Linked DNA regions of Homo sapiens. The protein of the gene in region 4 interacts with the protein of the main gene of each other region in a pairwise test. Each region holds a gene or a part of one and is shown on either strand. Other genes may lie near its edges.

Evidence for each region.
Region 1: the proteins of LEPROTL1 (region 4) and TMEM60 interact in binary tests that used the Homo sapiens proteins (3 or more experiments, as listed by UniProt).
Region 2: the proteins of LEPROTL1 (region 4) and LPAR3 interact in binary tests that used the Homo sapiens proteins (3 or more experiments, as listed by UniProt).
Region 3: the proteins of LEPROTL1 (region 4) and ORMDL1 interact in binary tests that used the Homo sapiens proteins (3 or more experiments, as listed by UniProt).

Annotation. Positions count from the first base shown.
Region 1 is NC_000007.14:77,795,417-77,802,450, reverse strand, and holds the start of TMEM60 (transmembrane protein 60), read left to right. Parts: upstream 1-4,016; 5' UTR 4,017-4,197; intron 4,198-7,034.
Region 2 is NC_000001.11:84,813,203-84,820,240, reverse strand, and holds part of LPAR3 (lysophosphatidic acid receptor 3), read left to right. Parts: intron 1-6,069; coding exon 6,070-6,395; 3' UTR 6,396-7,038. UniProt on the Homo sapiens protein: Receptor for lysophosphatidic acid (LPA), a mediator of diverse cellular activities. May play a role in the development of ovarian cancer. Seems to be coupled to the G(i)/G(o) and G(q) families of heteromeric G proteins.
Region 3 is NC_000002.12:189,781,324-189,788,549, reverse strand, and holds the start of ORMDL1 (ORM1-like protein 1), read left to right. Parts: upstream 1-4,210; 5' UTR 4,211-4,281; exon of another isoform or gene 4,282-5,426; 5' UTR 5,427-5,536; exon of another isoform or gene 5,537-5,947; 5' UTR 5,948-5,954; coding exon 5,955-6,128; intron 6,129-7,226. UniProt on the Homo sapiens protein: Plays an essential role in the homeostatic regulation of sphingolipid de novo biosynthesis by modulating the activity of the serine palmitoyltransferase (SPT) in response to ceramide levels.
Region 4 is NC_000008.11:30,105,387-30,109,041, forward strand, and holds the end of LEPROTL1 (leptin receptor overlapping transcript-like 1), read left to right. Parts: intron 1-359; coding exon 360-476; 3' UTR 477-3,138; downstream 3,139-3,655. UniProt on the Homo sapiens protein: Negatively regulates growth hormone (GH) receptor cell surface expression in liver. May play a role in liver resistance to GH during periods of reduced nutrient availability.

The DNA.
Region 1 (7,034 bases), on a different chromosome or scaffold from region 4:
CTAGGTAAAGGGGTTAAGGGATGGCAACCATCATTTTGGAATTCTTCTTTGAGTCTTAATTTGAACTGGGAAAGTAAGTATTGGAAGGTGAATATTAAATAAACATGTAATAATGGACAAACTGCTGAGGTTTTCCTATAATTTTAGTATCTAAGTATGCAATTTCCAATTATCAAAATTGGGTAGTACTCACTTTGCCCAACCACATTTACATACCATTATCATTTAAAGCTGGCCTTCACACATACATTTTATACAAAGCTACAATTACTTACCATTCCCTAAACAATCCATATTTCTGTTCTGAGACTCTGCCTCTTCCTGTTCTGCATGGAATGCCCTCTTTCTCCACCTACAAACACCACCTTCAGACCTTTAAGGCTTCAGTGGTAGCTCCCCTGAAACCCAACTAGTTCTCTCTTAAAATTATTTATTGTTTCTTTTGTATTCACTGCTTTCTATGTGCCCGTACTTTATATATTTTATTTAAGGCTTAATGTCTTCTTTGAAGTATTGCCCTTTCCATTAAACAGATAAGGAAACTGATGCTAAAAGAGGTTTGGTGTTATGTTCAAAGTCACAAAGCCTGATAGGAATTCAAATCCAGACTGTCTATACTTTAACTGAATTCTTGTCTCAAGAATTATTGGGACCACAAGCATTTTGGATTTTGGATTTTGTAATATTTGCATATACATAAAGAGATATCTTAGAGATGGGACTCAAGTCTAAACACAAAATTCATTTATGTTTCATTTACACCTTATACAAATAGCCCAAAGGTAATTTTATATAACATTTTAAAATAATTCTGTGCATGAAGCTAAGTTTTGACTGTTTTTTTGTTTTGTTTTGTTTTTGTTTTTGAGACGGTGTCTTGCTCTGTCACCCAGGCCAAGTGCAGTGGTGCGATCTCGGCTCACTGCAACCTCCACCTCCTGGGTTCAAGCGATTCTCCTGTATCAGCCTCCCGAGTAGCTGGGACTACAGGTGCATACCACCACGCCCGGCTAATTTTTTTTGTATTTTTAGTAGAGACGGGGTTTCATATTGGTCAGGCTGGTCTTGAACTCCTGACCTCAGGTGATCCACCCGCCTTGGCCTCCCAAAGTGCTGGGATTACGGGCGTGAGCCACCGCACCCAGCTTGACTGTAACCTGTCACATGAAGTCAAGTGTCTTGTGGCATCATCTTGGCACTCAAAAGGTTCCAGATTTTAGAGCATTTCAGATTTTCAGTTTACAGATGCTCAATCTGTATATATTGTATTATCGTCATTTGTTCAAATATCTATTTCTCCCATCAAATGAATGCTCCTCAAACACAGAGAAGGTGACTCCATCCCTTTATCTTCAGCAAAATCCAACAGTGCCTATTATACAATGATCTCAAAGTGTTACTGTGTACAATAGTGGATTCAATTTACGGTTTTGCAGTGTTATTTTCCACTGAGTAGTCTCCTACTATAAAGTCTCCAAGAAGCCAATTTTATTGTGGTAATAAAGTATAATGGCTTGGAATGTAGGCTTTGGAATCAGACTGCTTAGGTGTGAATCTCACCTCTACTGACTCATTTGTGAAGAAATCTTGAACAAATTAGTTAAACTAAGTCTTGGTTTGCTCATCTATAAAATGACAGTAATCAGTACCCATCTCACAGGACTAAAATGATTAAATAATATACAAGTAGTCCAACTATTTTCGAGTTTCATTTTATCCACATGACACCCTAAATTCTCTTCAGTTTAGTGAAGGTTTTTTTCATTACATATTCCTTGCAATTTTGCATTAAATGGACCAGCCAAAAAAAGTTCATGGTTTAAAAATTGGGTGGGCCACCTTCTTCATTTTTAGGGCCAACTGTCCAGTGCCAGTTTGGGCTCAAAAAAAGTTTACTCTTGGAGGCTTGACTATCTATGCAAGAGTGCCCCCATTGTATACTATACTTGTTTACTCACCACATTTTCATGCTCCACCAGAAAGTGGTCAAAATTGGAACACGAAAACTCTCCACCTCACTAACACCTAACTTAAAACTATCAGATGCATTCAGACAGCCAGTCTGTGTGGGAGGCAGGCTATTTCTGGGGCAAAAATATTTCCTGGAACCACTGTTTCTGGCCCCAGACATGGCTCATTCTCCGCAGACCTCCAGATTCCTCTCCTCTACGTTATGGAGGTGGAGCCACTACAACTGATAACGCATATCCATTTCCTTCTCTTAAAATTTGCAGTCCATACACCATATCCAAGTTAGGATTTCAAATTGTTATACTGTTTTGTGACTCTTTAGGCTAAAGTGTGCAGTTTCCAGACTTTCAGAATTCCCCTTCCAATATTAAAAATATGGTGAAAAAAGCCCAGTTTGAAAGAAAATAAACTTTACAAAAATACCTGAAAACAAGATCAAATACTAAGTCTCTTGCCAAAGTCTTGGAGAAAAAAAAAATGAAAGAAACGTTTAAAAATGGCAAAAGCTAACCAAAAACCTTAAGATTAAAGTATCACACCTGAAAAGTAGTCTCAAAGCAAGGAGGATATACTATTAACAAAGAAAGCAACCGAAAACTACAAAATATTTAATATTCACCATGAATTTCAAAATTACTTGGCATGTAAAGTACACACTGAGATTAATAAATTGTTCCAGATTCTGCACTGCCCAGGTTAGTATAAGGCAGTTCCTTGTTTTCGCCACGCTAAAAATAAGAAGGGTGACAGATTAGTGACAGAATGATCCCTGAAGTTACACAAGGAGGTGCTGAGTTAGAAAGCCATGACTCGAAGGACAATACCAGAATGCTGGCTGTCAACACTGGGCAGATAAAAATAAGAAAAGCTGAAGCATGCTGATGGAGCACGGTATTGTTTCCAGACGGGAACTATCCCTTAAGGCCCATGCCTTAAGCACCCACTCCGCCGTGTTGGGATCAGAAAACTCGACTGCCGCCTGCTCAGAGGGGGCAGGGCAGCGACCCTCCTTCCACCTCCTCCAGCGCGCGAGCCGCCGCCCCCTCCCGAGCCCGCTCCTCCGGCCGCTAGCTGACATCTCCCCGCCAGCCGGGCTAGCCACCCGAGACCCCTGAACGCCCTTCCAGGACCCGACGACCCCTCAGCACAGCGCCAAGGGAAGGAAGCAAAGGACAGGGGCCTGGAAGCGGGGCCCGAGGGGCGGGTGGCGCGCTGGGCTTCGGCCCGTCACCATCAAGACTTGAGGACCGCGCGAGCTCGGGAGGAAGGCGGCTGAGCCTCCGCCACCGGCCGACTGATGAGAAGGGGTCGCGGCTGACCCCGGCCCTCAGGTACGGGAGACTGCCGGGAAAGTCGCCGGCGACGGAGGGCGACGCGTTGGCCCCGGAGCCCCCACCTCCATCCCGACGACCGCTCTCCTCCCTCGTCCCGATCCATCCTCGAAATTCTGTCAGAACTCGACGACCTCCACACTGCCCACCCGAGCGCGGAGGTGATGCCGCTCTTACCGTAGGAGCGAGCGCCGCGCCGCTAGGAGGCGGCTGAGGTGCGCGCGGGAGACTCCGAAGCTAGCGCCGCCGCCAACAGAGCCCAAGGAGCCACAACGAGGCTGCCCGCGGGCGCGCTGCCTCCAGAGGGTTGCCCCACCCCCTCTCCCGCAGGATTTTGCGCCGGAGCCTGCAGTCACTGCGCGCGGGCAGGGAGGATGGGAGGAGGGGCGGGGCGTCCCGAGAGGGCGGAGCTGAGCGCCGGCTGCTCTGATTAACATCTGTGGGCCCAATGGGAGCACGGAAACTCCAGGCTGATCTTGGACTGACTTCCCTACTAACCCGTGACAGTAGAGAGGCGGGACCAATGGGTCTTTTTATTGCCGCCTTTCTGTCGAACCCGAAAGTAAGGAAAGGTCGGTTGGTTTGCACTGGCGGACAAATGGTCCAATTACCGCGGAAAAGGGACCTCTGAATCCAGATTGGCGTCCTCTCTACCTATAGGGTAGGCTCAGGGGCGGTGAGAACCAGCCCCGGATGTGGGCGCGGCACTGAGGTAGAACTGAGAGATCCTCTACCGCAGTCGTTTGAGGAGGCGGAACTGAAGTTTTTTCTTAATTATCATGTGACGGGTTCTGGATTTAATGGGGGGAAAAGGGCGGAAAAGGACAAGGATCCAAACTGGCGAATTTGCTGATCTTCGCGTCCCTCTCCGCTTTCCGGCCGGCAGCGCTGCCAGGTGAGTCTGGGGCTCTGCCCTAGCCCGCACCGTACGCCGGCGCTGGTCTCCTGATGCTTCCGTGGGCTGTGCGGCCGACCCTCAACCCATCACACAGCCAGCCCCAAACGCGCACACGCCTGCTTGGCTCCAGGGCTTCTGTGCGCATCCAGCAGGAACCGTGTTAAACTCCAGCATGTGCTGGGCTTACAGCCCATGAAAGGGGAGCGTCCCGGTGGGGCGCCGCGAGCCGACTGTCGGTGTTTGCAGAAGGGCAAGTATAGTTTAGGAGCGTCCTGAAGTTCCAGGGGCAAATAGGCCCCCAGATGAGCTAAGTTGTAAGCAGAACGCTGTTCCTTTGGCCAAGGCTGTTGCTGCACGGGCTTTTCAAAAGCGACTCATTATGAAGAAGAATAAATATGTGGGCTCATGAAGCAAAATTATCTTTGGGATGAGGCAGGTTCACTTGGTAGACTACTGGCAGTGGCGAGAGAAGGGAAATGGGGGCTGATACCCAGCCGTGGGCTATGTGGGTGGGGCTCTATATATGTCCATACAGGGGTAACTCCGAAGGTTTTAAAAATGAGTAAGGAATCATTAACAAATATTTAACTGTCTTCCTAGTGCCAGAAATAACCACCTTAAATGGGAAACATTTTAGTTGAGCACATTTTTGGAGTACGCACCTCCCCCTTTCTTGTGGAGAGAATAGTAGGAAACATAACGACTGCTCAAATTGATGAAGACGTAAATGTAAAACTGGGATCGTATGTCATCGTTGTAGCTCAGCATACAGGCGTACAATCCTTCAATCGTCATTTAAGTATCAGCAGTGCTTCCCCATTGAGGGTATTTCCGTGCAAGAACATAACAGAATTTTGTTGCATCCCACATTATAAATCTTGTAGGCACAATAAGATTGTTACTTGCATCCTTTCACCTCCAGCCCTAAAGCACCTGTGGTAAGTACAGCCAAATGTAAGAAAAAAATGAAGCTTGTCTTATCCGATAGCAGATGGAACAGTTAGGTTTAAGCAAGTGTATAATCATAAACCGTTTTTCAGAGGTTCACAAAAACGGCCTGATAGATTGGAGGTGGGGATTGTGCAATTTACGGGATGAAATCCATCCATGGTTATTAATCAACACACACCCCTCCAACCCTGCTTCCAAATTCAGTCCCACATCCCACTCTATGGCAGCCTCTGGCCGGGAAAGGAAACCAACACAGAAAAATGCCTCCTTAGAAGCAAAATTACTGCAGTATGAAGCCTTTGCCAATTAAGTAAACAAGTTTAAGTGCCACTAGATGGGTATAAGGGAAAAGAGGTGAGTTAGGAGACTAATACTTAACTGTTGAAATAGAACAGATGTGTCCTCTTGCACTGTGATAGCCACCCACTATTTAAAGTAGTAGAGATGTTGCACAGTACATCAAAGTTAGTTCTAAAATATAATTGAGCACGCTAATCTAGGGTATTTGGCTCAATTAGCCAGTTCCTTCACCTTTTCCCTGTTATCTTCCTGCATCTTTCCTCCTACCACGCATGCTTTTGTTCCTATCCCTAGCACCTTCTGATCTTTTTCTCTTTCCATCAAGTATCCTCTCTCATCTTCAGTGTCATTCCCCATTGGCTTATTTCTGTTTATAGTCATAAATTCTTCCTTTCCTGAAAATTTCTTCTTTCAGTTTCATATACCCTATCTTTCATTTTTCTCTTCTCCAAATGCCTCAAAGGAATAAAATGTTCTCAATTGTTTCCATTTCTTGGTCTTCTGTTAACTCCTTACCCAGCTGCATGCAGTCTGGCTTCTGATTTCCCATTCTACTTATCCTTTTTCCAAGTGGCCATAAAGGTTGGTATAAAAAACTTAAGTAGAGGAACATATCATAAACCTATATGTGAAGATTAAATATAATAAATGCTATCCCAAGCTAAGTTTTATGCATTCATAATCAAAATTCTAGGTTTTCAAGAATCAGCAAATTTAGCATTGAAAAACTGTAAGGGCAAAATAGAAAATATTCTAGAAAAGAGGCCGGCGTGGTGGCTCAAACCTGTAATCCCAACACTTTGGGAGGCTGAGGTGGGTGGATCACTTGAGGTCAGGAGTTCGAGATCAGCCTGGCCAACATGGTGAAACCCCATCTCTACTAAAAATACAAAAACTAGCTGGGCGTGGTGGCGCACACTTGTAATCCCAGCTACTTGGGAAACTTAAGTGGGAGGATCACTTGAACCCGAGAGGCAGAGGCTGCAGTGACCTGAGATCGTGCCACTGCACTCCAACCTGAGTGACAAGAGTGAGACTCCGTCTCAAAAAAAAAAAAAATTCTAGAAAAGAGAACAACGAGTAGATACTAGGCCTTCCAGATATTAATACATTCCTAGAGCAACACTAAGTCATATAGTATTAGTGCAAAAGAGAAACATATAGATCAATGAGGCAGAATAGTGATATAAGAAATAGCCCCCAAAATTTAGCATCTAATAATCACAAAACATCAAAAGTTTATTAGGTGGTCCTGATTATTGAATGGATAACAAGTAGCTTAAAAAAATACATATATACACCACCAATCAGTGAGACTATTGTTAAAAGGAAAAAAACTATTATACCAAGAAAGATATTTGTAAGAATTTTTATGAGAAAATAAGTGAGAATTTAAGAATATGTTTCAAATTATATGAAAATCCAGTGTTATCAGTGCCTTTTATATTATATAGCCCAACAACCTCTTTACAATCTTTTTTTTTTAGACAGTGGTCTCACTCCCATCGCCCAGGTTGGAGTGCAGTGTGCAACGGCTCACTGCAGCCTCAACTTCCCGGGTTCAGGTGATTCTCCCACTTCAG
Region 2 (7,038 bases), on a different chromosome or scaffold from region 4:
ACAAGACGTATGTATTAAAAACTACCTCTAGTATAGCTCAATGCTCAAGAGTTTGCATGGGGAAGTCAGGCCTGAGTTCAAATGATAACTTCTATTTTTTGGCTTGTGCACCTAGGACAAACTGTTGAGCTACTCTAAACTTCAAATTTATTGTATGTTAGTCTAGGATAATAATAAAAGTAGCAACTTTGTAAGGCTGTGAGTTTTACAGGGGAAGTGCATGTAAAGCCCTGAGCACACTGCCTGACCCAGAGTTCTCAGGAAATGCTAGAGAGGAATTAAGCAGGTAATGTGCCCAGTGCCACGTGAATGCTATAGGTAGAAAGTGCTACAGGAGTTGAGAGGAGGAAATGGACACTGTGGTGGAAGAGATGGGAGAGCTCCAGTGGAGAAGGCAGAGTATGCACTAAGCTTAGAAAGAAAAGCAGACCTCAGATTAGGAGGTGAGAAGGCATTCCTGGCACGGCGAGCCAAAGAGCAGCAGAGGAGGACTGTGGATGCCTTGCCTGTAGACTACTTTTGCTGCCACTCTTTGTATATTTATTTTTGCGTATGTGCTCAAACATTTTCCCAAATGCAAATTGAAGATATTCATCTCTAGAGATGCTTATTTTCTCATTTGAAAAAACTGTGCTCCCTCTCTCTTTTCCATGGCTTTTTGCTAAGTCTATATGGCATCTATAATTTTGCTTATGGAGTCAGCTTGATTAAACCATTTTGGGTCAGCATGGAGAAATAGGTTACAAAACTGGCTGTGCATCATGATCACCCAGGGAACTTTTTAGTCCTGCAGATTTCTGTGTCCCACCCGAGATTCTGACTATTGGGTCTGATGTGGGACCAGAGAATATGCATTATTTTAAAAGTTCCTTTAATTTTCATTTGGCTTGGTCAAAAGTTTGAAAAACACTGGTAATCTTTAAGGCCCCACCCAGCTCCAGTGATCTGTATTTCCCATAACAGTAACATTTTTATTCTCTCTGCTATTCTCAAGAGAGGGTTACTGTGTTGTCAAGAGAGAAAAACTAAACAAGCCAGACATCAAAAGCTATAGCTACCAACTTTGATGTGAAGAGTCCTTTCTATATGAAATTGTATAATTCCAAAAAATCCAGGTGGGAGTGTTCCAAGGTCCTTATGCTGACGGGAAGGAAGGACAAACACTGGCCAACTTTATACTTTGTTAAACATGTAAGTCGAGATTTAATAGAGTCTACAACTTCCAAACCAGTGGAAGGGGGAAAATGAAACCAAAGGAAATGAAAAAATAAAAGATCTCAATACGAAAAAAGAGAGGGGGAAAAAAGCGAAACATAGAAAAAAATGAAACAAAGAACAAAATAAGATGCTAGAAGTGAATTCCAATATATTGATAACTAAAATCAGTGCAAATCACGGTACAGTTAAAAAACAGATCAATCTAAACAATATGATGTCTAACATTACATCCGTATATTGGAAAACCATGAGAAAAAGCAAGAAGATGATTAGCCCAAAATGTATGATACGTTTATCTCAACAGGAGAGAGGGCTCCTGGGGTGGGCACCCAGGAAGCTCTAAAGATACGATAGTGTTCTTTGAAGTTTCTTTAAGTTCTTTAAGTTGGGTGGTAAGTAGACAGGTATTCTTATTTTTTTTATTCTTTTAAGCATTATTTTTTAAAGTTCACTATATTTTTTGTAGTTTTGTTTGAATAATATAATACACCCCCCTGGCATGCGTGCATCGCACACACACTCAAAAAAGGATAAAAATAAATTGCCAATGTTTTCCTAAAGCCCCACTCTCATATTATTAGATGTGAATTTTTAATGTGATTTTTTGTTCTTTAATGACGTGATTTTTTTGTCATGAAAGTTTTCTCCCCAGCACAAAACTCTGTTTTGAATTAATCTTGTGACCCAACACTCCAAACAAGTCTTCACATTGATGCTTTTTGTCATAATACGATAATTCCTATATAGTTTCCCTTTTCGTTGAATTACATAAAATAATTCATTCAATTAAAACCTTATAAGCTTTTTATTGAGCAATGATCTTGTGTCAGATGCTGTTTTAATCATTGTATATGAATTAATCCATTTAATTTTTATAAAAACCCTTGGGAATGGTACTAATCCTGCCCTCATTTTAAGCCTGAGGTAACTACAGCACAGAGAAGTTAGGTGATGTGGTCAAAGGCACACAGCCGATCAGTGGAAGAGCCAGGATTGGAACCCAGGCAGCCTGGCACCAGAGCCATGTTCCTGACTTTGTGCTAGGCTGCTCAGCTGTGGCCCGTAAAGCATCTTACTACTGAAGAGAGTGAAGGAGGAGTAGGAGGGTACCTCTGGACTTCAAGGGCCCCTCCGTAGTATGTCATGTCTGACCATAAAGCTACATATATCACAATTACATCATTCTTTGGTTGTTAAAGGAAAGATTTTTTTTTTTTTTTGGCCAGGAAAGGAAGAAAGGGAGGGAGAGATGGAAGGAGGGAAGGAATCCAAAGGAATCCAACAAAAATATTGGCTGATTGGCTGGCCGTGGTGTCAGAAGAGAAATAAAAATCTGCTGATCTCATCTTTATGCTGTTTCCAATGAACAACAAAAGGCAAATGTTCTTCGACAGAACAGCACAAACATACTAGGTGGCTAAACTAGAGAACAGGTACTTCAGAGATGTTGCCTTAAGCAGATGCTCCCCGGCAGTGACCCTGGGAAACAGCTGTTCCAAGCCTCCTCCACCTGGAGGCCAAGATCTCTCTCCAAACACATCTCAGAAGAGATGCACAGTTTATCTAACAGTTCATACTTTGAGGGGGTTTGCTCTATGTTAGCAGTTAAACATAAGTCCTCCCCACGCACCTCCACACCCTAGGCTCTGTAGTCTTGGAGAATTCATAGAGAATGTGGAGATGTCAGGAACATTCAAACAGGTAACTGGACTAATTCTTAAAAGTGAGGGGTGTGTGTGTGTGTGTGTGTGTGTGTGTGTGATAGATCCTGGAAAATATTTATCACTTAGTTGCCTACCAATCTACATAAATCCAGAAGAAAAAAACTAAAAGGAATGTCTTTTGAGTATTTAGCCTCAATGCTCAGACTATGACTGCTGGGAACCAGCAGGGTTCAAAGAAGAGTTTGTGTGATGCCCAGATTACTTTAAAAAAAAAATTCTCAGCATTAACAAATATGAATGAGTGTCCAGAGGTACGCATCTGGGAACTAGTAGATAAAATTCAATATGTGTCTCCTGGAGAAAAGGCTAAAGAAAGACAGAAAGCGTTAACTGTCTTCAAAAACCTGAAGGGCATCACATAGAGAAAGCACAGACTTTTCCTGGGCTATTGCAGAGGATCACACAAAACAAATGGAAGAGTACAACAGGCAGAGTTTGGATGCAAGCCTTCTTTTCAAGTAAATGAAGATATTTATATATTTTTTTGCTTTTTACTTTTTTGGAGATGGAGTCTTGCTCTATTGCCCAGGCTGGAGTGCAGTGGCACAATCTCGGTTCACTGCAACTTCGCCTCCTGGGTTCAAACAATCCTCCTGCCTCAGTCTTCCAAGCAGCTGGGACTACAGGTGCCTGCCACCATGCCCAGCTAATTTTTTGCATTTTAGTAGAGACAGGGTTTCACCATGTTGGCCAGGCTGGTCTCGAACTCCTGACCTGGGTGATCCACCCACCTCAGCCTCCCAAAGTGCTGGAATTATAGATGTGAGCCACCACGCCCAGCCTAAATGAAGTTATTTAAGAGAAGAAACCATTGTTCAGCAGTTGAAGAGCCTCCCTTGACCAGGGCATTTCCTTTGCCTGGATTGTTCTGAGATGTACAAAGGGAAGGCCTTTTTCCTATGAATGAAAGATCAGGCTAAGCGGCTTCTGAACTCTTTTCCAAGTAGGAAACTGCCGAATTCTGTGAAACTGTGGCTTTTAACTCTCCATAAAACTCAAACAAATTTGACTTGTTTGTTTCTCAGACACAATTATCGGGTGGTATGGCTAAAAACTTACTAATATGAATTCTCAAGTTGGTAGTTGCAAACTTGGCTGCCCATCCAGTTCCTTCACTTGTTTCAAACCAGTCTGAATAAAACAAAAAACCAGTCTGAATCTGTCACATTGATTGCACACCCACTAACAAGTTCTGACCCACCACTAGAAAAACTCAGACCTAGCCTAAAGTCAGTCCTCAGTTTACAGCTGAGGAAGCTGAGCCCAGCGCAATGACATGGGTCTCCCAGAGTTGTACAGTAAGTGAAGAATTAGAACCCAAATCTCTGATCTCTTATCTCCAAGTCCAGTTCTTTATTCACATATATCAGCCAGACCGAAAATAATAATACAAGGTGGAGAAAAAAGGGAACCACTGCTGAACCGTAATTATGAAATAAGGAATTCAACCCCCCTGCTAGCTACTAAACATATAGATATTTTTTGTGGAAACAGAGCACCTCATGATAACTGCTGCTCAGTGAACCCACCACAGTGTTGGGTACCACTTTCCATGACCTCTGATCCTCACAACTACCACCTCACATAGTTGGGTTTATTAACTTTATTGTATAAAGGAGGGAATGGAGGCTGAGAAAAGTGAAGTAATTCCCATAATTCGGGTCACTCATAGGTTGAGCTGTGCATACATGTCTGACCCCAAAGTTCGTGGCTCTTCCCTGCCTTACACTGCCTCTTTATAATCCTTGTCTTTCCCTGCTTGGTATTATATCTCTTAGAAGTAAGATAAAGCAACAAGAGAAATACTATGCAGAACTAATTCTAACAAGTAGAGTAGTTGGTGATATCATCTATAGACTTGCTTGTTTGTCGTCTTCTCTGTTAGTATTTTAGCTCCCTGAGTGCGTGGCCTTCACCTCACTCACTGTCTAGTACAGCTCCTGGCACATTGTTAGCTTCAGATGAATATTTATGAGTGGACAAGCAAGTGCATTTAGAAATGACAAGGACATTCGCCGAAAGCAACCACATCATACTACAGAGGCGGGTCATATAGTGGCCCAGGGCACAGCCTGTGGAGAAAGACGGCCTCTGTTCAAAATCGTGTCTCTTAAGAGTTATTTGATCATAGGCAAGTTACTTAACTTCTCTTGTGCCTCGGTTTCCTGGGGATAATAATAATGCCAATGTCATAGTGTGGTCCTGTGAGTTAATCAAGGAAAGCGTTTGCACCAGTGCCTCGCTTATAGTAAGTGCTGTATAAAGATGAGTCGTTATTGCTATCTGAGGTTATGATAATAGTAGGGAAATAGTGGACCCATGTCTTAATGGGAGAAAAATATCATGAAATTTAGAGATAAGGTAAGTATGATGCTGTGGCTAGAGACTCAGAAGAGACTACGGTTCATATTCAATTGCAGAGTCTGAAAAGTAGATTTTTAACTATCTCATCATGAAAGATTTATTTCTGACCAAAAAATCTAAATGTAGAGCAGATGATTATGCAGATGGCCCGTGAATATGTCAAAAAGAATATAGTGCTTACTAAGCATCCACATGAATTTATGAAGAATGAAATTTATGAGCAGGTGATTTGGTTAAACTACTAGAAGAATGCCGTAGACTCATTGTGTCTTATTTTCAAGAGCACATTTAGAAAATCTGATTTCTGTAACAGCAGAATGTAGGGTGAAGTATGGGAGCCCTGGAGTCAGAGAGTTCTCCTCTCATCTCCCCCTAGAATTGGGCCTTGGTTTTCTTATCTGTCCAATGTGGATAATGAGTGCAACAAAGCCTCCCAGTGTGGTTCAGAGAACTAACGGAGATCATGCATGTGCACTGCCTCCTAAGCAGAATGTAAATGTGAGTCTCTCATAATCACAAGACCTGGGTAAGCAGAAAAGAAAGTGAAATGAAATGTGATTGATAGTCAAGGAGGTTCCCACCTATTTGCCTGTACCAAGCGTAGGTCTCAAATGCTCAGATGGTAGGTGGAAGTTTGCCTTGCAGTTGTCAAAACAAATCATGAGGGCCCCTTGATGCCACTGGCTAAAGGCTGGGAGAGAAGAAAACCTGAATAAGTCCCCTAAGGTCTGAGCATCTGTTGCCTCCTCTTCTCTCCTTGCAGGGGCGTTTGTGGTATGCTGGACCCCGGGCCTGGTGGTTCTGCTCCTCGACGGCCTGAACTGCAGGCAGTGTGGCGTGCAGCATGTGAAAAGGTGGTTCCTGCTGCTGGCGCTGCTCAACTCCGTCGTGAACCCCATCATCTACTCCTACAAGGACGAGGACATGTATGGCACCATGAAGAAGATGATCTGCTGCTTCTCTCAGGAGAACCCAGAGAGGCGTCCCTCTCGCATCCCCTCCACAGTCCTCAGCAGGAGTGACACAGGCAGCCAGTACATAGAGGATAGTATTAGCCAAGGTGCAGTCTGCAATAAAAGCACTTCCTAAACTCTGGATGCCTCTCGGCCCACCCAGGCCTCCTCTGGGAAAAGAGCTGTTAAGAATGATTACCTGTCTCTAACAAAGCCCATGTACAGTGTTATTTGAGGTCTCCATTAATCACTGCTAGATTTCTTTAAAAAATTTTTTTTCATAGTTTAAAAGCATGGGCAGTAAAGAGAGGACCTGCTGCATTTAGAGAAAGCACAGAAACGGGAGAGGTTCGGCGGGTCCCTGCTTGTCCTATGAACTGCTCAGAGCTCCTGTCAGTCCAGCTGGGCCTTCTGGGTTCTGGCACCATTTCGTAGCCATTCTCTTTGTATTTTAAAAGGACGTTATGAAAGGGCTTAGACCAAAATAAATCATAATGTTACTTGAGCCACCTTATATAGCTGCTTGGAGAGTCTATGTAGTTCTTTCTGCATGCATTAAAAATGTTTAGAAATGCTTCAGCAATGGTGTTTTTTTCCTCAAAGAAACCATGGCCAGTAGCTAGGTGTTCAGTAGGAATCAAAGAAAAATCAGTAAGAGCTCCAGATTAAACCTGATTTTTAACTGAAGGAACATTCTGAGGAAAAATACTTAAAAGTAAAAAAGGTCAATGTGAAAACCCTTTTTGACCTGAAAAAGGCCTTAGTATGGTCCTCCATGC
Region 3 (7,226 bases), on a different chromosome or scaffold from region 4:
CAGGCTCTGAAATCACACTACTTTGGTTTTATCCTAGCTCTTACACTAACAGATATGTAACACTGAGGAAATTAAACTCTCTAAAATGCAATCACCTAATCTATAAAATGGATCTAATAATGATATCATATGATTGTGGTGAGAAGTAAATAAAGTAGTATATATAAATAATGTATTACAGTGTTTGGCATATAAGTGCTAAAAACATCCCAGGATACTGGGACTAAACTGAGCTCCTCTAAACCCCTAAATGAACAATCCCCCCACCTCTAACCCCTACCCCAAAGGGGCTCACACATTAGGCCTGGGTTCAAGAAGTCTTCCACCTCAGCTAGGAAATCCCAAGGATCTAAGAAAAACACTGATCAACAAAACTTTGGGGTATAAACTTAGACTGACTCCTTCTGAGCAGTCTTAATCTCATCATCTTTGTCTCGTTTCCTATAATACCTCATCTCCTACAATGCCAAATCCAAGATCTTTTTTTTTTAAATCTCTATAATTGCATCCCAATATTCCTCATTCTTCTAGTTTACTAAGATCATGGCAATTCATAGCATGAATTCTGTCACACTTTATCTACCCCATCCCATTGCATCCTCTGGTCTTAAGATGTCTGCATCTCTTTTCATACTCTTCTTCCATGTCATGTCATCTTTCTTCTCTCCTAATTGCTACAGTCTGAATATTTGTGTCTCTACCAAATTCATAAGCATATGATATCTGTATTGTCTCCATTTTATAGATTAGCTGATTGAGTTTTAGAAAGTTTAATTTCCTCAGTATCATATAGCTGTTAGTAAGAGCTAGGATAAAACCAAAGTAGCGTGATTTCAGAGCCTGCCATTTTAACCAGTACTCTATCCAGCACTGTTCAACAGAACTATAATGTACATACATCATTTAAAATTTTCTAGTACTCACATTAAAAAAGCTAAAAAAAAAATAAAAAAGTGAAGTTAATCTTAATTACGTATTTGGATAATCTAATATATTCAAAATATCAAATATCATTTTGTCCTATAATCAATGTAAGATAACTGTAAAGATTAAATTAATTAAATTGTATAATTAAACCTACTACATCTTTGTCCTGAACTGTAAAACTTTTTTTTTCCTGCTGTACAACTTTTGAATGTAGGAAATTATGTATTATGTATCTCTGGATGCCAGGCAGAACAATCAAATGCTTCACCCATGGCAAGCCCTTCACTTCATGAATATTAATGAAGGACCACTAAATATAATTTATCAGCATCTTTCTTATGCTAACGCAAACATTAGAAAAAGTATCCTCCTTCCCTTTATATACATAATTTCAATTGGCTTCCACACCATCCTCCAGCTCACCTGTATCTCACACTTTTTTTCTGGACTTTAGGGCCTTACTTCCATCTACCTTCTAAATATCATCATTTAGATGACCTGAAGGCAACCTAAACATAACATGTCCCAAACTGATCAGAGAATCTTTCTCTTTCTTTTTTTTGAGACAGAGTTTCAGGTTTCGCTCTTGTTGCCCAGGCTGAAATGCAATGGCACAATCTCCGCTCACTGCAGCCTCCACCTCCCGGGTTCAAGCGATTCTCCTGCCTCAGCCTCCCGAGTAGCTGGGATTACAGGTGCCCGCCACCACACCTGGCTAATTTTTTGTATTTTTAGTAGAGCCAAGGTTTCACCATGTTGGCCAGGCTGGTCTCAAACTCCTGACCTCAGGTGATCCGCCCGCCTCGGCCTCCCAAAGTGCTGGGATTACAGGCGTGAGCCACCACGACTGGCCTCTAATCAACTTTCTTCCTATATTTCTTGTTTGATAATAAAAGTAATAGCCAACATGAGAATTTTATATATATTATCCTATTTAATCCTCACAACAACTCTACGTATTCTATCATCCTTTATCACCAAATAGGATTTAAAGGCATGGTAACTTGCTCAAGATCACAAAACTATTAAGTGGCAGATGCACACCTTGGCATGTTTGACTCCAAAGGCCATGCTCTCAAACACCTTCCATCCAAGCACATAAAGCAAAATTAGAAACCTTGAAGTCATCCTAGAAATTCTACTCGCTCTCTACATCCTGCCACCCAGTCATCTCTCTCCTACTATCTAAATGTTTCCCAAACTAGTCCTCTCCTCTTTGTACTGCCTCCATTCGGCCTTTCTCTCCTGAACTACTGCAATAACCACCTAATTGATATTTTGACTCGAATCTCAACCACCTATAGGGTTCTTTCTGTATTTAAATTTCATCATGTTGCTGCCCCACTTAAAATTTTTATAAAGGTTTCCAATTGCCAACCAGGTTAAGTACAAACTTCTTAACAACTGGATTTTTGCCTCCTCTCCCAGTCATCCCATCGTTGCCCAAATGTGCTCTAGGGCGATCATACTGCACAGCTCGTCTTTTTTTATTTTTTATTTTTTGTGACAGGGTCTCACTTTGTTGCCCAGGCCAGAGTGCAGCGATTTTGGCTCACTGCAACCTCTGCCTCCCAGGTTCAAGCAATTCTCCTGTCCCAGCCCTGCAAGTAGCTGGGATTACAGGAGCGCACTACCACGCCCGGCTAATTTTCGTATTTTTAGTAGAGACAGGGTTTCACCATGTTGGCCAGGCTGGTCTCGAACTCCTGACCTCAGGTGATCCGCCCGCCTTGGCCTCCCAAAGTGCTGGGATTACAGGTGTGAGCCACCGTGCCCAGCCAACTTGTCTCTCTTAACATGGTGACACTCACTCCTTCCTCAGCTCACATGGTTCTCTCTCAGCTGACTTCTAATCATCCTTCCAGATTTAGTTCAGTATCAACTCTTCAAGCCTTTCTTCCCTGCTGCAGCCTCCTTTCCTTCACCTGCCAACAGATTAGGTATTCCTTCCCCTGCAGTCCCCCTTTACCTCATTTCTAATTAACCTCATCACAAGTTACTCTATTAATATGTGTTTCTGTCTGTTGCTCCTGACTCAGAGTTCTTTGAGGACAGGGGTTTTATATCAATCACACATCGCTAGCATAGCCCCTGGAATATAGCACTCTATACCATATGTGTACCAAATGGAAGGGTTTATATCGGGCTTACAAATCACAGCAAAGAATGTCTGGGAATATCAGGATAGTCAGTCTTCCATATTTGCTGGGAGGGAAAAGGAACACTTCTGAAGAAGTGCTGATGACCCGGAAAGTCAGTTAAGGACAACAGGTGTGCCTAAAAAAGAAGTAAAGATCAGAGAACTCACAGACTTCCATTAGAGAGAACACAAAGAAATCATTTATTTAAAGATCAGACTAAATCCAAAACAATTAGGTTCACAAAGCCAACAGAAATGCAAGATACAGACATACACAGCCAACATTCTCTTAAGTCAATTTCAAAATGTTGAAAGCTATTTCGGCAATAAAAATCACAAACTTTCTGCACTGCCAAGGTGAGGGAAATTACATTTCAAAGGCGATTCCAAAAAAACCTAATCAAGACTTTCCTCAGGATCAATTTTTGGTATTCACATTTCCTTAGCATGTAATACAGGTGCCTGTCTTCGGCGTACGGATAAACCCAGAAGGCCAAGAGCAAAAATCGTGATTAACTTTAAAGAGTTTAACTTGCACCCCTTGTATGATGCCACAGGATACAATACTATAAACCGCCACTCACACAAGATGAGTTACAGTTGCCATGGGTTAAATCTGCTGCCTGGAAAACAAATTTTAAGTCCTCCACCCAGAAGGGTCTGGGGAATGGGACGCAACAAAGACCAAGCCAGAACACCCCGGAGCCCAGACCTGCTCAGAAAACGCGTTCCACGTGTGCGCGCCCGCAAGCCCGGCTTCGCTTCCCGCCCCGCGGGGAGCGCCCTTAGCTGCCCTATAGCGTTCGCGCCCGGACCAGGACGAGTAGAGGGGACGGGGCCCTCGAGCCATCGAGGATATAATAAATACCCGTTAGTCACACCACACTACCTTCCTGCTAGCGCGAGGCAGGCAATTACCATCCACTAGCCGCAAGCAGCCAGCGTCTCACCCGATGCGCAGGCCCAACCCCGCACCCGCACCCGCACCCAGCACGCACGCGCGCGGCAGAGCGGGTGCAGAGAGCGCGGCACTGAGTCCCGCCTCGCCCGGGGGCAACGTGAGATTGGCGCTGCTCGCAGCCAATCCGCTGGCAGCGAGTCTGTCCGGGAAAGCTTCCGCAAGCTGCGCAGCGCCGGGCCTGAGGGCGTGTATCCGCGGCCGTAGCAGCCGGGCTGGTCCTGCTGCGAGCCGGCGGCCCGGAGTGGGGCGGCGGGTAAGTGGGCACGAACGCGGTGGACGCTGTACAGTCGCCTTCGTCGGTAGGGAACTGCTGGCGGCCTAGGGGTCGTCCTGAGAGGGAAAAGCGGGCTCCGGCTGCATCTGCGGCGCCCTGCGTGGCCGTAAGAGCCAAGTGGCCTCAGAGGCTCGCCCCCTACGCAAATCCTCGTTGTCTTGCCAGGGTCCTGACGTGACGTGCGGCCGCGAGAAGGAAGGGGCGGGTTGGGGGAGGCGCTGAGGTGGTAGCAGCGGCGGCTTTTGCTGAGTTTTCTCTGGCCCAGAGCGCTCGGGCTGTCGGTCTAGCAGGGGGGACTCCCCTGAGGGGCCGCTGCGGGTCGCCGTCTTCGGAGGCACCGGCGAGGGCAGAGCCAACAGCCTCTTCACGGTCTGTAAGGTCATTGTTTGCCAGTCGTGGGCAGCGCGGCAAACCTGCTGGGAAAAGGTTTTCTGGTTGGAATAGGATGAGTACCGCACCAGCTTTGCCTTCCAGCTGAGATGTAAATTTCAGGCCTCCATCCTGTGGAACGTGGGAAAACTATCTTGAGTGTTGGCATGTTCTAAGTATGACATAATAGTTTAATGTATGATAAATCATGGGTGTTTAGACGAAAGATTTACACATATAAATTGGAGGCTTTAGCGGTCTTAGTGTAACTAACTTTTCGTCCCCTTAACCCTTGATGCCTGTTCTATGGGTCTCTAGAGCGGAAGGAGCATTATACTCCGGAAACATTTGCTGGAAGGGGTTATGAGAAATTCCTCTCTGTATGCTAACTCCGTAATACAAGCGTTTGTGTATTTTAAAATCACAGCTGTTCCAAATATAATCTAGCCTCGTTTTCCCCCTCCGTCGGATGATAGGTGTTCTTCAGGACAGTTTTATTTTAAGCAATTCTTAGTCTCAAGTAAACACCATCATTAAAAGAACTGAGAACTATTATCAATTCTTCCTTTGGAGTCCATCTTCAATGGAAAGGAGAAGGGAAAACCTTTTTTAAAAAGAAGAAAGAAAACTGAAGTTTTTGATTTGACTAGAGAAATATTCAGAAGACTCCTTATTTTCACCTAGTTTAATCACAAAATTGAGAAACAAACATTATCCCTTGACCATGTAAATTTTACACCACATTATGTCAACAGCATGTACCTTCCACATTGAGTATTCAGAAAGAAGTGATCTGAACTCTGACCATTCTTTATGGATACATTAAGTCAAATATAAGAGTCTGACTACTTGACACACTGGCTCGGTGAGTTCTGCTTTTTCTTTTTAATATAAATTTATTATGTTGGTAAATTTAGCTTTTGGCTTTTCACTTTGCTCTCATGATATAAGAAAATGTAGGTTTTCTCTTTCAGTTTGAATTTTCCTATTCAGTAAAACAACATGCTAGAAAACAAACTTTTGGAAAGGCATTGTAACTATTTTTTCAAATAGAACCATAATAACAAGTCTTGTCTTACCCTAAAGTCAAATGCTGAAGATTCTTTACTGCTGTCATCAGCATCTACAAGTAGCATATTTTGGATGGTGTTTGTGTGCTACTTCAAAGTAACTAGGAAAAAATAATCCTCGCAACACAGGTACCTTGTCATGTCAGAATTGGGGGTGTTAGGTTGCCAGTTGTATCAGTGTTGATTCATTTCATTACTTCCTACAGAGCAAACATGAACGTTGGAGTTGCCCACAGTGAAGTGAATCCAAATACCCGTGTCATGAACAGCCGGGGTATGTGGCTGACATATGCATTGGGAGTTGGCTTGCTTCATATTGTCTTACTCAGCATTCCCTTCTTCAGTGTTCCTGTTGCTTGGACTTTAACAAATATTATACATAATCTGGTAAGAATTTCACATTATACTAAACACTTAAAAGTTTTAAGTTTAGTGGTTGCCGGAAATTAAGGGGAGGAAGGAATGGAAAGTTATTGCTTAATGGGTACAGAGTTTTTGGTTTTGCAAGATGAAGAGAGTTCTGGATGTGGATGGTAATGGTGATGATTGCACAACAATATGAATGTTTTTAATACCACTCAACTGTACATTTAAAGTCCCAGCACTTTGGGAGGCCAAGGCAGGCAGATCACAAGGTCAGGAGTTCAAGACCAGCCTGGCCAACATGGTGAAACCTCATCTCTACTAAAAATACAAAAATTAGCCGGGCATGGTGGCGCATGCCTGTAGTCCCAGCTACTCGGGAGGCTGAGGCAGGAGAATCGCTTGAACCTGGGAGGCAGAGGTTGCAATGAGCCGAGATCATTCCACTGTACTCCAGCCTAGGTGACAGAGTGAGATTTCGTCTCAAAAAAAAAAAAAAAGTGTCTAAGATGGTAAACTTTATGACATGTGTGTTTAAACATAGTTTTTAAAGAAGCTTAAGGTTTTGTGTTGTATACAACTTAGTTTTTTTAACAGCTTTTTTGAGATATAATTCACATGCAATAAAATCCACCCATTTAAAGTGTATAGTTTAGTAGTTTTTAGTATATAAGACTTAATTTTGAAGAATTCTAATCTGGGATAGAATTTTCTTTTTTCTTTCACGCTTTATTTCAACATTGGTCCTTTTTCTAAGTAAGACTTTTTTTTTTCTCATTGTATAGAATCTAGAAAATAGATCATTTTAGTTTCAATCCTTGTTAACTTATCTATCTAAATAGTGTAAGTATACTTCACTGTTTCAGTATTTAAGTTTTGAACTTAATCATCTTATGTGATTCAGGATCTTATGGTGCCTTAGCTGCTGCTTGTTACTCTCTTGTGTTAGCTCTACAGAGTATCAAAGTTTTGATTGACTGTACTGACCATATTATGCAGCCCTGGAAATTGCCTTTTACAAAAACAAAAAATCTTGACAGCGACTTTTCTTGTCTTTAATAACCCATTAAAGTAACGTGAAAAGGAGGAAATACAGTTAGTTGAGGATTTTAATTGAATCCA
Region 4 (3,655 bases):
GTAGAATTTTATGCTGCTTCTTCATAGCCCAGAAGTCAAGCTTGTTTTTGAATGGTCATTTCATGACTTTCTTTTTAAAGGAACCAAAGGTAAATGAAAATACTAGTATAAAAGTACCACTTTTATACTATAAATATATTTATACTGTATATATTTATATATATTTATACTATATATTTTTTTACTATATATATTTATACTATATATATTTATAAGTATGTGTTCAGCACTGTGACAATTATTGTTACAAGGCATGCTTCTTTTAGATCATAATTGGGATACAACTAGAGCCTTGATTTTTTTTTTTATTTTCCTTTCGTTTTTCATGCCTGTTGACTGAGTGTATCTTATTTCCATAGATTGAGTGGGGAGCTTGTGCACTTGTTCTCACAGGAAACACAGTCATCTTTGCAACTATACTAGGCTTTTTCTTGGTCTTTGGAAGCAATGACGACTTCAGCTGGCAGCAGTGGTGAAAAGAAATTACTGAACTATTGTCAAATGGACTTCCTGTCATTTGTTGGCCATTCACGCACACAGGAGATGGGGCAGTTAATGCTGAATGGTATAGCAAGCCTCTTGGGGGTATTTTAGGTGCTCCCTTCTCACTTTTATTGTAAGCATACTATTTTCACAGAGACTTGCTGAAGGATTAAAAGGATTTTCTCTTTTGGAAAAGCTTGACTGATTTCACACTTATCTATAGTATGCTTTTTGTGGTGTCCTGCTGAATTTAAATATTTATGTGTTTTTCCTGTTAGGTTGATTTTTTTTGGAATCAATATGCAATGTTAAACACTTTTTTAATGTAATCATTTGCATTGGTTAGGAATTCAGAATTCCGCCGGCTCTATTACTGGTCAAGTACATCTTTTCTCTTAAAATTATTTAGCCTCCATTATTACAAAAAATTATAAAAATAAGTTTTCAGTCAGTCAGGATGACATCACTCCCAATGTTATGCAGACATACAGACGGTTGGCATACGTTATAGACTGTATACTCAGTGCAAATATAGCTGCATTTATACCTCAGAGGGGCCAAGTGTTAATGCCCATGCCCTCCGTTAAGGGTTGTTGGTTTTACTGGTAGACAGATGTTTTGTGGATTGAAAATTATTTTATGGAATTGCTACAGAGGAGTGCTTTTCTTCTCAATTGTTAGAAGAATTTATGTTAAACTTTAAGGTAAGGGTGTAAAAACATTTTTGAGATAAGGTTTTTATTTATGTTTATTATTGTTAGAGTGAGTTGCAATGTGGGAAGAAATGACATTGAAATTCCAGTTTTTGAATCCTGTTTCTATTTATAAGTGAAATTTGTGATCTCCTATCAACCTTTCATGTTTTACCCTGTTAAAATGGACATACATGGAACCACTACTGATGAGGGACAGTTGTATGTTTGCATCATATATGCCAGAAAACCTTCCTCTGCTTCCTCCTTTTGACTTATTTGGTATGTTGTATATATTACATAAAATAACTTTTCAAATATAGTTTAATAACACTTAGAAGTGTTTACTTACCTGGAAAATAATTGCTATGCCGTACATTCAGAGTGCCCCCTCCCCTGCAAGGCCTTGCCATGATTAACAAGTAACTTGTTAGTCTTACAGATAATTCATGCATTAACAGTTTAAGATTTAGACCATGGTAATAGTAGTTCTTATTCTCTAAGGTTATATCATATGTAATTTAAAAGTATTTTTAAGACAAGTTTCCTGTATACCTCTGAACTGTTTTGATTTTGAGTTCATCATGATAGATCTGCTGTTTCCTTATAAAAGGCATTTGTTGTGTGAGTTAATGCAAAGTAGCCAAGTCCAGCTATATAGCAGCTTCAGAAACATACCTGACCAAAAAATTCCCAGTAACCAGGCATGATCAATTTATAGTGGTCGTTTACATCTAATAATTATCAGGACTTTTTTCAGGAGTGGGTTATAAAAACATTCAAGTTGGTCTGACAGTATTTTGTTAAGGATATTTGTTTGTATGTTTATTCAGTATACTTACATAAAAATTATTTCGCCATCAGCCAAAACTCAGTAATCATGACAGCTGTCTGTTGTTTTATGAAGTTTATTTCTCAAGAAAATGGGAATAAATTTGGGATTTGTTCAGCTTTTTTACTAAAGATGCCTAAAGCCACAGGTTTTATTGCCTAACTTAAGCCATGACTTTTAGATATGAGATGACGGGAAGCAGGACGAAATATCGGCGTGTGGCTGGAGCCTTCCCACTGGAGGCTGAAAGTGGCTTGTGGTATTATAATGTTCAGATTTCAAGAGGAAGGTGCAGGTACACATGAGTTAGAGAGCTGGTGAGACAGTTGGGAACTCTTTGTGCTTGTGATCTACTGGACTTTTTTTTGCAGGAAGTGCATTCTCTGGTCCTTCCCTATTTTCTGTTCTGGATGTCAGTGCAGTGCACTGCTACTGTTTTATCCACTTGGCCACAGACTTTTTCTAACAGCTGCGTATTATTTCTATATACTAACTGCATTGGCAGCATTGTGTCTTTGACCTTGTATACTAGCTTGACATAGTGCTGTCTCTGATTTCTAGGCTAGTTACTTGAGATATGAATTTTCCATAGAATATGCACTGATACAATATTACCATTCTTCTATGGAAAGAAAACTTTTGATGATGAAACAATAAAGATTTTAAATATCTATTTTAGTTTGTGGGTGTTTTTGAAATGAAAATATATGGCACACTTTCATTCTGAAGTGCATTAACATTCTAATAAGGTGATGTAAAGCAAGATGACATTGGTGTAATGTTAGAGTTGCAGAAGTTTCCATTCCAAAATAAAATGGAAACCATAGTTACAGATATTACAATGCAGCCCTGTAATTTTGAGCTGTAGTAAAAGGATTGGTAATCTGGGAAGTAGAATTTTTACAAAATCTTTTACAAAAATAGTCATAAAAGGTTTTGTTGACATTTAAGACTACTACTGATCTAAAGGCAAGGTCCTACTTCTTAAATTTTCAGAACATTTTTATGACTTCTTATTATGTATTTATTACCACTCATTATTATAGCATGTTACTTTTTGCAAACATTTTAAACAAAAAATATTTCTGTTTGGTACACTGTGAAGAGAGAAAAGTACTGTTCTGTATTTTCAAATATTAGTCGTGTCCCAAATTGTCCTAATTATAATCTTATCATATACTTTAAAAAGTTTAGGCTGTGGACACTAAATGTCTGCTCTAATATGATTTTGGGGACATTGTCAATACAGATTTTTTTTTTTTTTTTGAGACTTGCTTTGTGCCCAGGCTGGAGTGCAGTGGTACGATCTTGGCTCACTGCAACTGCTAGGTTCAAGCGATTCTCATACCTCAGCCTCCTACGTAGCTGGGATTACAGGCATAGGTCACCACACCTGGCTAATTTTTGTATTTCTTGTAGAAACATGGTTTTGCCATGCTGGCCACACTGGTCTCAAACTCCTGGCCTCAAGTTATCGCCCTGCCGCTCAGCCTTCTGAGTAGCTGGGATTATAGGCCTGCACCACCACGCCTGGCTAATTTTCGTATTTTTTGTAGAGATGGGGTTTTGCCATGTTGGCCACGCTGGTCTCAAACTCCTGGCCTCAAGCCATCACCACCACAACCCCCCTCAAACCACCCCCCCGCCC